Linked DNA regions of Homo sapiens: region 2 is linked to region 1. A link means that fine-mapping ties the variant in region 1 to the expression of a gene that starts in the linked region. Tissue or cell type: whole blood. Region 1 holds a variant in brackets; the other region holds the start of a gene. All regions are shown on one strand. Distances are between the middles of the regions.

The links. PIP is the estimated chance that this variant, and not a neighbour inherited with it, causes the effect.
Region 2: it holds the start of DNAH10, and the variant in region 1 is fine-mapped to the expression of DNAH10 in whole blood (TOPMed, PIP 0.96).

What each region holds. Positions count from the first base shown.
Region 1 is chr12:123,895,123-123,900,122 of GRCh38, forward strand. It overlaps DNAH10 (dynein axonemal heavy chain 10), which reads left to right. Exons shown (of 79, transcript NM_001372106.1): 55 at 2,648-2,845; 56 at 3,531-3,692. Among named protein-coding and RNA genes, the nearest start is that of DNAH10OS, 37 kb to the right of the region's middle. RefSeq lists an enhancer at 3,704-4,204. The variant G/A (reference allele first, on the strand shown) is at 1,919.
Region 2 is chr12:123,758,326-123,764,297 of GRCh38, forward strand. It overlaps DNAH10 (dynein axonemal heavy chain 10), which reads left to right and starts at 3,976. Exons shown (of 79, transcript NM_001372106.1): 1 at 3,976-4,225. The coding sequence starts at 4,012. ATP6V0A2 (ATPase H+ transporting V0 subunit a2) reads left to right here. Exons shown (of 20, transcript NM_012463.4): 20 at 1-3,430. RefSeq lists a silencer at 3,557-3,976.

The DNA.
Region 1 (5,000 bases):
AGTACTGTTCGGCTCTTTGTAGAAAACATGTGCTGGCCTCTATCCAAAGAATGCTCCAAGGACAATTCAGCAAACATTCTGCATTCTCATTGAATTTCTAGCGTTTCAAACACCTAAGGCCTTGGATATTAATTTTAATGTTTGAATAAGAAAGGAAGTCTGTCTTCAGGGAACATCTTTTTCTTTTGACCTAACTTGAGCAGATTTATGATGAATGACACTGGGTAACCTTGAAAATAGTTTCAACCTTCTAAATCTGTACTCAATAATAAATAAATAAATGTTCCTATATGTAAGAAGAAATCATAACTTTAATCATAATGCAGTTTTGGGGGAAAAGGGGCCAAGAGAATGACTCTTTTCTGATGATATATCTCAGGTCCAGATGGTAAATATTTACAGCTTTTTCGCAACTACTCAATTCTGCCATTTTATCATGAAAGCAGTCATAGACAATACGTAAATGAATCGCTATGGCTGTGATCCAATAACACTTTATTTACAAAAACAGGGGGCGGGCTGGATTTGTCCTTTGGCCCGTAGTTGGCCAGCCCCAATATAGATGTCCCCTTGTTCTCAGAGGCGTATTTGCCGTTTCCATGTGTGAAGTGCTTGTGTTTGCTTTCAGTATTCAGTGATTCAGCATCATAAATAATGCTGCCTAGAATTTGCTTAGAACTTTTTTGTCCTTAGAATATACTCCCTGGAGGCCAGGCGCAGTGGCTCACACCTGTAATCCCAGCACTTTGGGAGGCTGAGGCGGGTGGATCACTTGAGCCCAGGAGTTCGAGACCAGCCTGGGCAAAATGGTGAAACCCTGTATTTACTAAAAATACAAAAATTAGCTGGGTGTGGTGGTGGGCACCTGTAATCCCAGCTACTCAGGAGGCTGAGCCATGAGAATTGCTTGAGCCCAGGAGGCAGAGGTTGCAGTGAGCCGAGTTTGTGCCACTGCTCTCCATCCTGGGAGGCACAGTGAGACTTTATCTCACACACACACACACACACACACACACACACACACACAGAGAGAGAGAGAGAGAGAGAGAGAGAGAGAGAGAGAGAGAGAGAGAATATATTCCCTGGAATTGAGATGACTATGCCCAAAGGCACAGATATTTGTGAGGCACCGTTTTTCCTGCACACTGTAAAATGGGCCCTGGGGCTGTGTTTTGCTAACCCCGGAGTAACTCAGGACCAGCTCTGCAGAATCTGGATTAATCGGTACTTTCAATCTGTCTTTCCTTCCTCCATTTTAATATGAGACATTCTCTGCTTTGAGCTGAATGCATTTAACAACCTATCAGATAATCCAGGTGATGTGATCTTGACACTGGAAGCCATCATTCATTCTTTCAGCGGGTGTATAGGAAGGCCCACCTTTGCCGATATGTGCTGGGTGTCATCCAGCGGTGGGTAACCGAATAAGCCCACCCAGTCCTCGGGCGGGCGAGGGGAGCAACAGGGCAGAGTTAGACGTGGTGATCGCTTCTGAAAACCCAAGGCCCTTCTGCCACGGTGTCTTGGCCTTTAGGGAAGACAGGGCTTCCTAACAGTAGGGAAGGAATTAGGTAACAGAGTGAGACCCTGTCTCAAGAAAAAAAAAAAAAAAAAAGAAGGATTAGCACGGATCACTGCTGTGGCCCTGAAAAGCCACCAATAAGTGATAGCCATTCTTTTCTTGTCCTATTAAAAACTTTAACATCATTTTTTTATTGTAGTAAAATATATGTAACATAACATTTTCCATTTTAAGCATTTTGAAATGTACATGTGGCACTAATCACATTCGTAATGTTGTGAAACCAACACCACTGTCTGTTGCCAAAACTTTTCATCATCCCAAACTGAAACTCCATACCCGTTAAACACGAACTCCCCATCGCCCCTCCCTCCAGCCCCTGGCAACCTCGAATCT[G/A]TGTTCTGTCTGTATGAATTTGCCTGTTCTAGAGAGGGTTCGTATAAGTGGAATCATGCAATGTTTGTCCTTTGGTGTCTGGCGTCTTTCACTTAGCATCATGTTTTTGAGGCTCATCCGTGTTTCAGCATCGGAACTTCATTCCTTTTTACAAGTGAATACTATCCCCGGTATAGATAGGACACATTTTGTTCATCCATTCCTCCGTTGCTGGACGCTTGGGTCTTTCCACCTTTTGCTTATTGTGATAGTCTACAGTAAACATTGGCATACAAGAATTCATTTGAGTCCCTGCTTTTCAGTTCTTTGGGGTATATACCTAGGAGTGGAATTGTTGAGTCATATAATAGTTCTATATTTAACTCTTTGAAGAATCCCTGTTTTCCTTTCTTAACAAGCATGGCTGGGTGCGGTGAGTCACGCCTGTAATCCCAGCACTTTGTGGGGCTGAGGTGGACCGATTGCCTTAGCTCAGGAGTTAAGACCAGCCTGGGCAACATGGGTGAAACCTCACCTCTACAAAATAATACAAAAAATTACCCAGGCATGGTGGCCCATCCTGTAGTCCCAGCTACTTGGGAGGCTGAGGTGGGAGGATCACCTGTGCCCAGGAGATGGAGGCTGCAGTGAGCCATGATCACGCCACTGCACTCCAGCCTGGGCAACAGAGTGAGACCCTGTGTCGAAAAAGAAAAAGAAAGAAAACATTTTTTATTCCTTCCTCTTCAGGGTATAATCCAATGATCCCGGCAGAAAATATAGAAAATGTGGTGAAGCATGTTGTCTTGGTTCACCAATCCGTGGACCACTACAGCCAACAGTTTCTACAGAAATTGAGGCGCAGCAACTATGTCACTCCCAAGAACTACCTTGATTTTATTAACACCTATTCAAAATTGCTGGATGAGAAAACTCAGTGTAATATAGGTAAGCCTTGGGGATGGGGTGGTTGACAAAAGTCATTATTATTTATGGGTAAGGATTCGAGCGCTGATCTTTTCTTTAGTAAGATGGGGCATCTTCAGTATTGAGGCCAAACGAAGCACATCTTGGATTTTGTGTCTTGGAGCGATTCTTTCATGTGGGCAGGACCCTGGCATGTCCTTATTTTTGTTCTCAGTGTTGAGTCTTAGACTTTGAAGCTTTACATTTTGATCACATTAGCAATTTTTAAATTTTATTTTTTATCTTAGGGATAGGGTCTCTGTTTCCCAGGCTGGAGTGCAGTGGTGCAACCATGGCTCACTGCAGCCTCGACCTCCTGGGTTCACGTGCTCCTCCCGCCTCAGCCTCCTGAGTAGCTGGGACCACAGGTGCAGCCACCATGCCTGGCGCACATTAGAGACAACTATCTGCTGCAGCAGCATGCACTGCCGGACAGGGCTTTTTAAAAAGTGCTCTGGCTGTTGGCCAAGGGAAGCACTGTCTTCAGAAATACATTCATTTTGGCTGATGCTGTCCCAAGTATGGCAGTGGAGGTACTGAAAGACATGTGCCATCTTGTAAAAATGTTTTGTTTTGTTTTTGATAAGCTGAAGTTAGGCAAATCTCAGTGATTGTGTTGCGAACAGTGGCCACCTCGACGATGAACATAGGTGCCCTCTTTCCTCAGCTCAGTGCAAGCGTCTGGATGGGGGACTGGACAAGCTGAAGGAGGCCACCATCCAGCTGGACGAGCTGAACCAGAAGCTGGCCGAGCAGAAGATCGTGCTGGCGGAGAAGTCCGCCGCCTGCGAGGCCTTGCTGGAGGAGATCGCCGTCAACACCGCTGTAGGTGAGTGAGGGCGGGGCCAGGGCAGCCCATCCCCAACACCCAATACCCACCGTAGGTGAGTGAGGGCGGGGCCAGGGCAGCCCATCCCGAGCAGGACAGGGCTCTGCCAGGCCGTCCCTGTGAAACTGCTTGTAGGCACTGAGCGTGCCATCTTTGACCCTGCAATTCCTGTTTTCTTTCTGAATTCGTGTCCAGCCAGTCTTGTCCCCTTTCATAAGCACTGAGAAGCTACCATATGTAGGCCCCTGCGCTGGTAGCCTGAGGATGTTCAGGGGAGTGGAAAAGTCACTCGACCCTCTATGGGCTGGTGAACTAAGTCCGTGGGGTTGAAATGACCTAAGCCTTGGCACCATCGACGCGGGACTTTCTTGGTTCTTGAAGCTGTTTCAAGGTTCTTTCTTGGGCCCCTTCCCTCGGTCTTCTTGGCCGAGCCTCTGTGTCACCTGCACTGTCCTGCTCTTGACGACTCTACCCTCTCGCGATGCCTGGCACAGGACGGCTCCTGCAGCCCACAGCTCTGTGCCTGGCCTCTAAGCCTCCTCTCTAGGTCTTTGGGCCAGTGGCTTCTGATGTGTACCCTCCCCAGCTTGTTCCCAGATTCCTGCAGATGCCGCTCAACCTGCCTGCCTCTTCCTTCTCCTGCTGGTCCGTGTTCGTGTTGCTGCTAAGTGTCATCTCGGTTCAGTTCCTTTGTCATTGCACCCGGCCCTGTGCACAGGATCCATTTGTCATCACTCTGGCAACAGCACCTTAACTTGGTGTTGGCAAACTGCCTCTCCCCGACTCCCAGTGCCTGCCATCAGGATGGGCTTATTCTAACCCTGACAGACCAATTAGATGTTCTCTGGGACTGCACATTTTGAATCAGCCAATATAAAGACTGAAGATTATTTGTGTTCATTCATTGCACAGCAGCGCCGTGAAGAGACTGCATTCAGTGCCCGAGCCCAGATCCCTGAGGCGCCTCTAGTTTATGTGTTTCAGCATCTTCCATGTCTGTGAGCTACCATATCTTCTTAAAACAATTTCACGTTTTTCTTAACTCGACCATCATTAGCTTCTGTTGCTTGCAACCAAAGCAACTTAATCGATAGATATCCTTTCCCAGGAATTTGTGGCATATCCCTGCTGCCTGTTTTGATGCTGAGTCCTCACTGTGGCCGTGAAGGGTCCCATCAATCCCTCTATGTCATCTTGCCTACCTAATTTCTCATGACACCCTGTCGCCTGCTCACAGCATCACTTCTTCATGCCTGTGTGAGTCCTGCAGTAACTTGCTCTTTCTCTCCCTTTGGTCTGCTAAGAATA
Region 2 (5,972 bases), 140 kb before region 1:
TTTGCATGGCTAGTTGAAAATGGTATTAGATACTTATTTCCTTTAAACTTTATTTAAAACAAACAACAGAGTTAATCTGTCACCTGAAGTTGCCAGATAATATTTTCCAACAGCTGAAGTAGGGATAGTTTTTTAAAAAATTTAATGATGGGTAATCAAAACATTCACATTTATTCTGCTGGATTTAAAAATATGTACTTTTTTTTTTTTTTTGAGATGAAGTCTTGCTGTGTCACGTAGGCTGGAGTGCAATGGCACGATCGTGTCTCATTGCAACTTCCGCCTCCTGGATTCAGGTGATTCTCCTGTCTCAGCCTCCCGAGTAACTGGGATTACAGGCATGCGCCACCGTGACCAGCTAATTTTTTTGTATTTTTGTAGAGATGGGGTTTCACCATGTTGGCCAGGCTGGTCTCGAACTTCTGACCTCAAGTGATCCACCTGCCTCGGCCTCCCTAAGTGCTGGGATTACAGGCGTGAGCCACCATGCCTGGCCAAAATATGCAAATATTTTTTATCCTGTGCTACCTAGAATTACAAGTAGAGGATTGTTTTTACAATTTTGTCTTGTTTTAGTAATTGGGGACAATGGGATAAAATGACATACAACAAATGGTTATCCCACTTGTATATTTTTTTAAAGACTCTTATCCTGTTACCCTTACATAAAACCAGTTATGATAATTGTATGTTTGGAAGATAAATTGTATGCTGAGCCTTAAAACCCAGTGTGACTGTAGAAGATATAATGCGGACATGATTTGAATTTAGTGACAGCTTGGCTGATGTCACTGAACCAGAAGGGTTTATACTGAGTGAAGGAAAGGTAAAAAGTAGTATTTTGTATATTTTTGTAACAAAATATAAATGAAGATATTTTACCATGAAGAGATTGCACTTATCCTTGAGAACAGTCTAAATATAAATGAAGATATTTTACCATGAAGAGATTGCACTTATCCTTGAGAACAGTCTAATGATACTTTTTTTACTTTCAGACTGTTTCTAGCTAAAGTTCTGATAAAAGTATTGAGTTAATTTAAACTTTCAAACACTGTTTAGATCAGTTGAAAACTAATTCTTAATAGCCATTGTTTTATAATCTTTAGTTTAAATTCATCTGTTTGACATTTGGTTTTTTGTGAACTTGAGTCAGTCCTATTGAACATTTTGACCTATATTCTTGCAAATTATGTTAATTTTTCATATTTTAGTTTGATTTTAGACAATTATTTTCAAAAAGAAACCTGACTTTTTTTCACCTTCTTGACATTGTGAGTGATACACGTTAAAAGGCTATTTGCCCGCATCCTCCTCTATCCTGTTTCGAGGTAGAGAGCTTGGCACTTCTGTTACAAGCTGAGAGTCTGGAGGTGCTGAGTTTAACGTGGCTGTGCAGCTGATTTCAAGGCATGAGCTGAACAGCGTTGACACAGCCGTGACTTACAATTAAACCCTTTCAATTACAGTACAGATTCTGTGTGCTACTTGATGAGATGTTACCCAAGGCCAGTTTGGACTTACTGCTTTTTGTCCCTCATATTAAATTATCAAATGATGCCGATGAAATGCTTGAAAATGATTCTGCTCTCAAAGTTATGCTTCCCTAGAAAGGTGTCATGTCGGGCACTTGTGTTGGGTGACTATGACATCCCAGCAGTGCTGGTCAGGTCTCAGAGTTGCTTTCACCTAGAGCTGATGCTTCCACAAGGGGACATTTGTGTTACTTTGCTCCAGGGGTCTGTCATAAAAACAATGGTAACTACTTCATCCCTAGGAAGCCCAAGACTTCAGGGCACTGTTAGCTGATTGGTAAATAAGGGACACGATATTCACGGGAATTGTTTACTGCTCCCCACTAGTAATTCTCATGGGGCCACTTTTTTAACTCTTTCTAATTAACACCTCTTCTCAGCATAGAGCAGAGGATGCAGTCATTTCTCTGTTGAAATCTATGTAGTATTTATGTAGAATGTCATTATATGAAAAGCGAATTCAGAATCCTAACTCTGGGAAAGCGCTCTCTGGAAATGTAGTTTGATAATAGTGTCTTATAGGGGCCACGGGAATTTGTTTCTCTATAAAGCGATGGGCTCCAGTGTCATGTTACCAGAGTTATCGCTCAGTTTTGTTTGTTAAGGCTTTTGCTAGAACCTATTATGTATCCAGTTTTTAAAACATACTTCATTCCCTTGATAGCAGAGATCCAGAGCACAGATGGCAAGTTGTGTGGATGATACTGAATATGTTTATTTTCCTAAAGATAAATGTCACGACACGACATTTCTCAGTTTTTATTTAGATGTTTATTACCATGTGTTAACAGAATCTTAAAACCCAAGGGATTTCTTCAGTAAACTAGACTTTGATTCAACCTGCTGGGCTGGAGACTGTAATTGCCGTGGTCAGTTAAGGAGTGCAAAGGGTGTTCTGTCTGATAGGATCTGGGTGAGCCCTGCGGACTTTCCAGCAGCGAAAGGACTTGGAACTCCTCTTTCGCTGAATGCTGCTCTGTTTCTGGAATGGATATTTTATAACAACATTCTGGTGTCAGCATCCCCTCAGCAGTTGTTTATTTAAAAATTTTTTTATTTTTTTTGAGACAGTGTCTCACTCTGTCACCTAGGCTGAAGTGCAGTGGTGCAGTCTCGGCTCACTGCAACCTCTGCCTCCTGGGTTTAAGCAATTCTCCTGCCCTAGCCTCCCGAGTAGCTGGGATTACAGGCGCCTGCCACAGTGCCCGGCTAATTTTTGTATTTTTAGTAGAGACAGGGTTTCACCATGTTGGCCAGGCTGGTCTCAAACTCCTGACCTCAGGTGATCTACCCACCTTGGCCTCCCAAAGTGCTGGGATTACAGGCGTGAGCCACCGCGCCTGGCCCTCTGCAGTTGTTTAATAAGGCACAGAATACCTGTAGCATAGGTCAGCCTTACGATGTCCATGAATTACATATTCAGACGTTTTAGAGCCTGATACATTTTGGAAAAGAAAAACAACTTCTACACCTATTCTACAGTCCGCATTTAAAACAATAAATTCCTCTATTAAAAACGTAAAGCCGGGTTTGCTTGCGTGCCACAGGGAATATATCCAGGAAGGTTATTATGAAGCTGTCAAATCAAGATGATGGGAATAAGGCAGTTTGAACGAACAGTCTTCCCACAGTCAGGCCATTTTTGCTGATTTGGTTTAGAATTTTCAGAAATACTTAGTACACTCCACCTGTTCTTTGATGGGAATATCTAAGAAGGCTAGGTAGGTTCTTAGGGTTAGCCTGAGTCATCTAGGGGCTCAACTCCTTGTGAGGGGAAATGACAGTGAACAAGTTAGTACTTTGCTCCACAAATGCATGAAAGGACAAATTTGCATCTTCTATCAGTATTTAACTTCCTTTTGCTAATGACAAATAAATATATCTATATTTTTAAACGTGGGTGTTTTGCTTTATTATGCTCTAGTTTGGCAAGAAAGCTAAAGAACTCTGCTCCTTCCCTGATTTTGTAGGCCATGAGGAACTCGTGCTTTCTCGGCTTATTTCCTCCTCGTCTGGCCTCTAATCCCGCCTCTGCCACCGCCGAGGTGCTGTGACCTTCGTCTCGCCAACTCTCTAGCCCCAGCTTCATCTGCAAGGTGGGCGGGCTGCTTGCAAACCGGTCGGCGTGGGGTGGGGTCGCACCCTCGGCTGCAGCGGCCCGAGGGCGGCTCCTGGCGGCGAGGGTCCCGCTCCGCATCCAGGGGCGTGCGCGCTGCCGGGGCCAGGGAGCAACCAGCCTACCTCGGCGGCCCGGGGGCCTGGTGCGCGCCTCCGAGATCCCGGGGCCGGGGCGTGGGCTGCGGCTCGCGGGTTCGGGATCGAGGGGCCGGGCGCGGGGCACTGCCGAGCTTGCAGCCCCCAGCGCCGGCGCCGTCGGCGGGGCGAGCTGCGGCCGTTTCCGGGGCGCCCATTGCTAGGGCCGCCGTTGCCACGGACGCCCGCCCTGCGCCCGGCTCCCTCTGCACTGCGCGGCGCCATGGACGACCTGCGGGTGCTGTGGATGCGCGACCGCGTGTATGCGGCTTTCGGCATCACCGACCCCCAGCTTTTCGAGGACCTGCTCAACCGCGACGACGGCCAGGGCGAGGACCTCATCTTGCACTTCCTCAACCAGGCGAGCGAGGAGGAGGGGCCCTCGGCGCTCTTCATCTACCGCACTATGGTGCCGGAGGAGGTGGAGGTGGAGATTGGTGAGCCTCGACGCGCCGCTCCCTTCCCCGGGCTTCCCTCCTGCCCGTCCCGGCCTCTCCGGCGGGCGCCGGGGCTGCTAGAGCCTGCCCATCGTCCGGCCCCGGCCTCAGGTGCTGTCCACAAACGCTGCCGCCCGCCACGTGCAGGCCCCGGGCGAACCCAGCAATCACAGCCGTCCCTGCCCTCCTGGGCCCACAGCCCACTTGAAAGTCAGGCCTTGATTGAAAAATCACAGCAAACACTGACTTAGCCCGCACCCCGTGCCAGGTGCGGTTCCAACGCTTGTATCAACTCCTTAACCCTACGAGGCGGGTGTATCCTCATCCCTATTTTACAGATGAGCAAACTGGCACGGAGGGGGTTAAGTAACCTGCCCAAGGCCCACGGGGCGTCAAGATCCACTGTGCAATAATCCGAACGGCTGGGTAGAGCCATGCCCAGGTGTGGCAGGGACCCAGGTCACTGTCACTCTCCTTGACGGTCGCAGCCTCTCACGGAGGGTCCGAAGAGCACCCCTTTCTACTTCTGGAGGCTCCTTATATCCTAAAAAGTAAAATAAGGCTAGGACAAAGTTTAAAAACTACAGTAGACTTTAAATGTTTATGTTGAACAAATTAGCATCGCAAATACAAAAAGACAGTGACCAGGGTCCCAGAACCCTCTGTGGAGGCGGATCCCCAGCCCCACCTACTCTCTGATAGGCCAGGGACACTGAGAGGGCAGGGAGGGGCCAGCACAGGTGAGAGGAGGAGGCAGGACAACTCGCTTCAGAAACAGCTAGAAGGAGACTGGGACCTCGAAAGCCGCCTCCTCGCAGGAGCACCAGCTGGAGCACAGCTACCGGGACCTCCTGCCTGGCTGTCCAGTCTCCTGGGCTACTTTTCCAGCCCCTTAAGGACTTGGGGATCCCTTGCAGGGCCTCTCACTGGGTTCGGGTGGCAGGGCCGGCAGACCTTTGATTTTTTTTTTAAAGGTACCAGGCAGATTCATTTATTGTATTCTATTTTTTAACTTTTTTTTTTTTTTTTTTGAGATAGGGTCTCACTTTGTCACCCAGGCTGGAGTGCAGTGGTGCGATCTTGACTCACTGCAACCTCTGCCTCCAGGGCTCAAGTGATTCTCCCACCTCAGCTTCCTGAGTAGCTGGGACTACAGGTATGCGTCACCATGCCTGGCTAATTTTTATATTTTTGGTAGAGACAGGTTTCACCATGTTGCCCAGGGTGGTCTCAAACTACTGAGGTCAAGTGATCCTCCCGCCTCGGCCTCCCAAAGTGCTGGGATTCCAGGTGTTAGCCATCTGGCACCTGGCCACTTCTTTTTTTTTTTTTTGAGACAGAGTCTAGCTCTGTCGCCAAGGCTGGAGTGCAGTGGTGCAATCTCGGCTCACTGCAACCTCCACCTCCCTGGTTCAAGCAATTCTCCTGACTCAGCCTCCCAAGTAGCTGGGATTACAGGCACCCATCACCATGCCTGGCTGATTTTTGTATTTCTAGTAGAGACAGGGTTTCACCATGTTGGCCGGGCTGCTCTTGAACTCCTGACCTAAAGTGATCTGCCCACCTCGGCCTCCCGAAGTGCTGGGATTACAGGTGTGAACCATCGCGCTTGGCCACCTTCATTTATTTTAAATATTCATTATTTGCTTGCACAAAATAAAACGCCTTCATCATAAATCCAAAACCATAAATAAACAACAATAACAAATCCCTAGTGCCATCTGGAGAGAGGACCACGTGATCACGT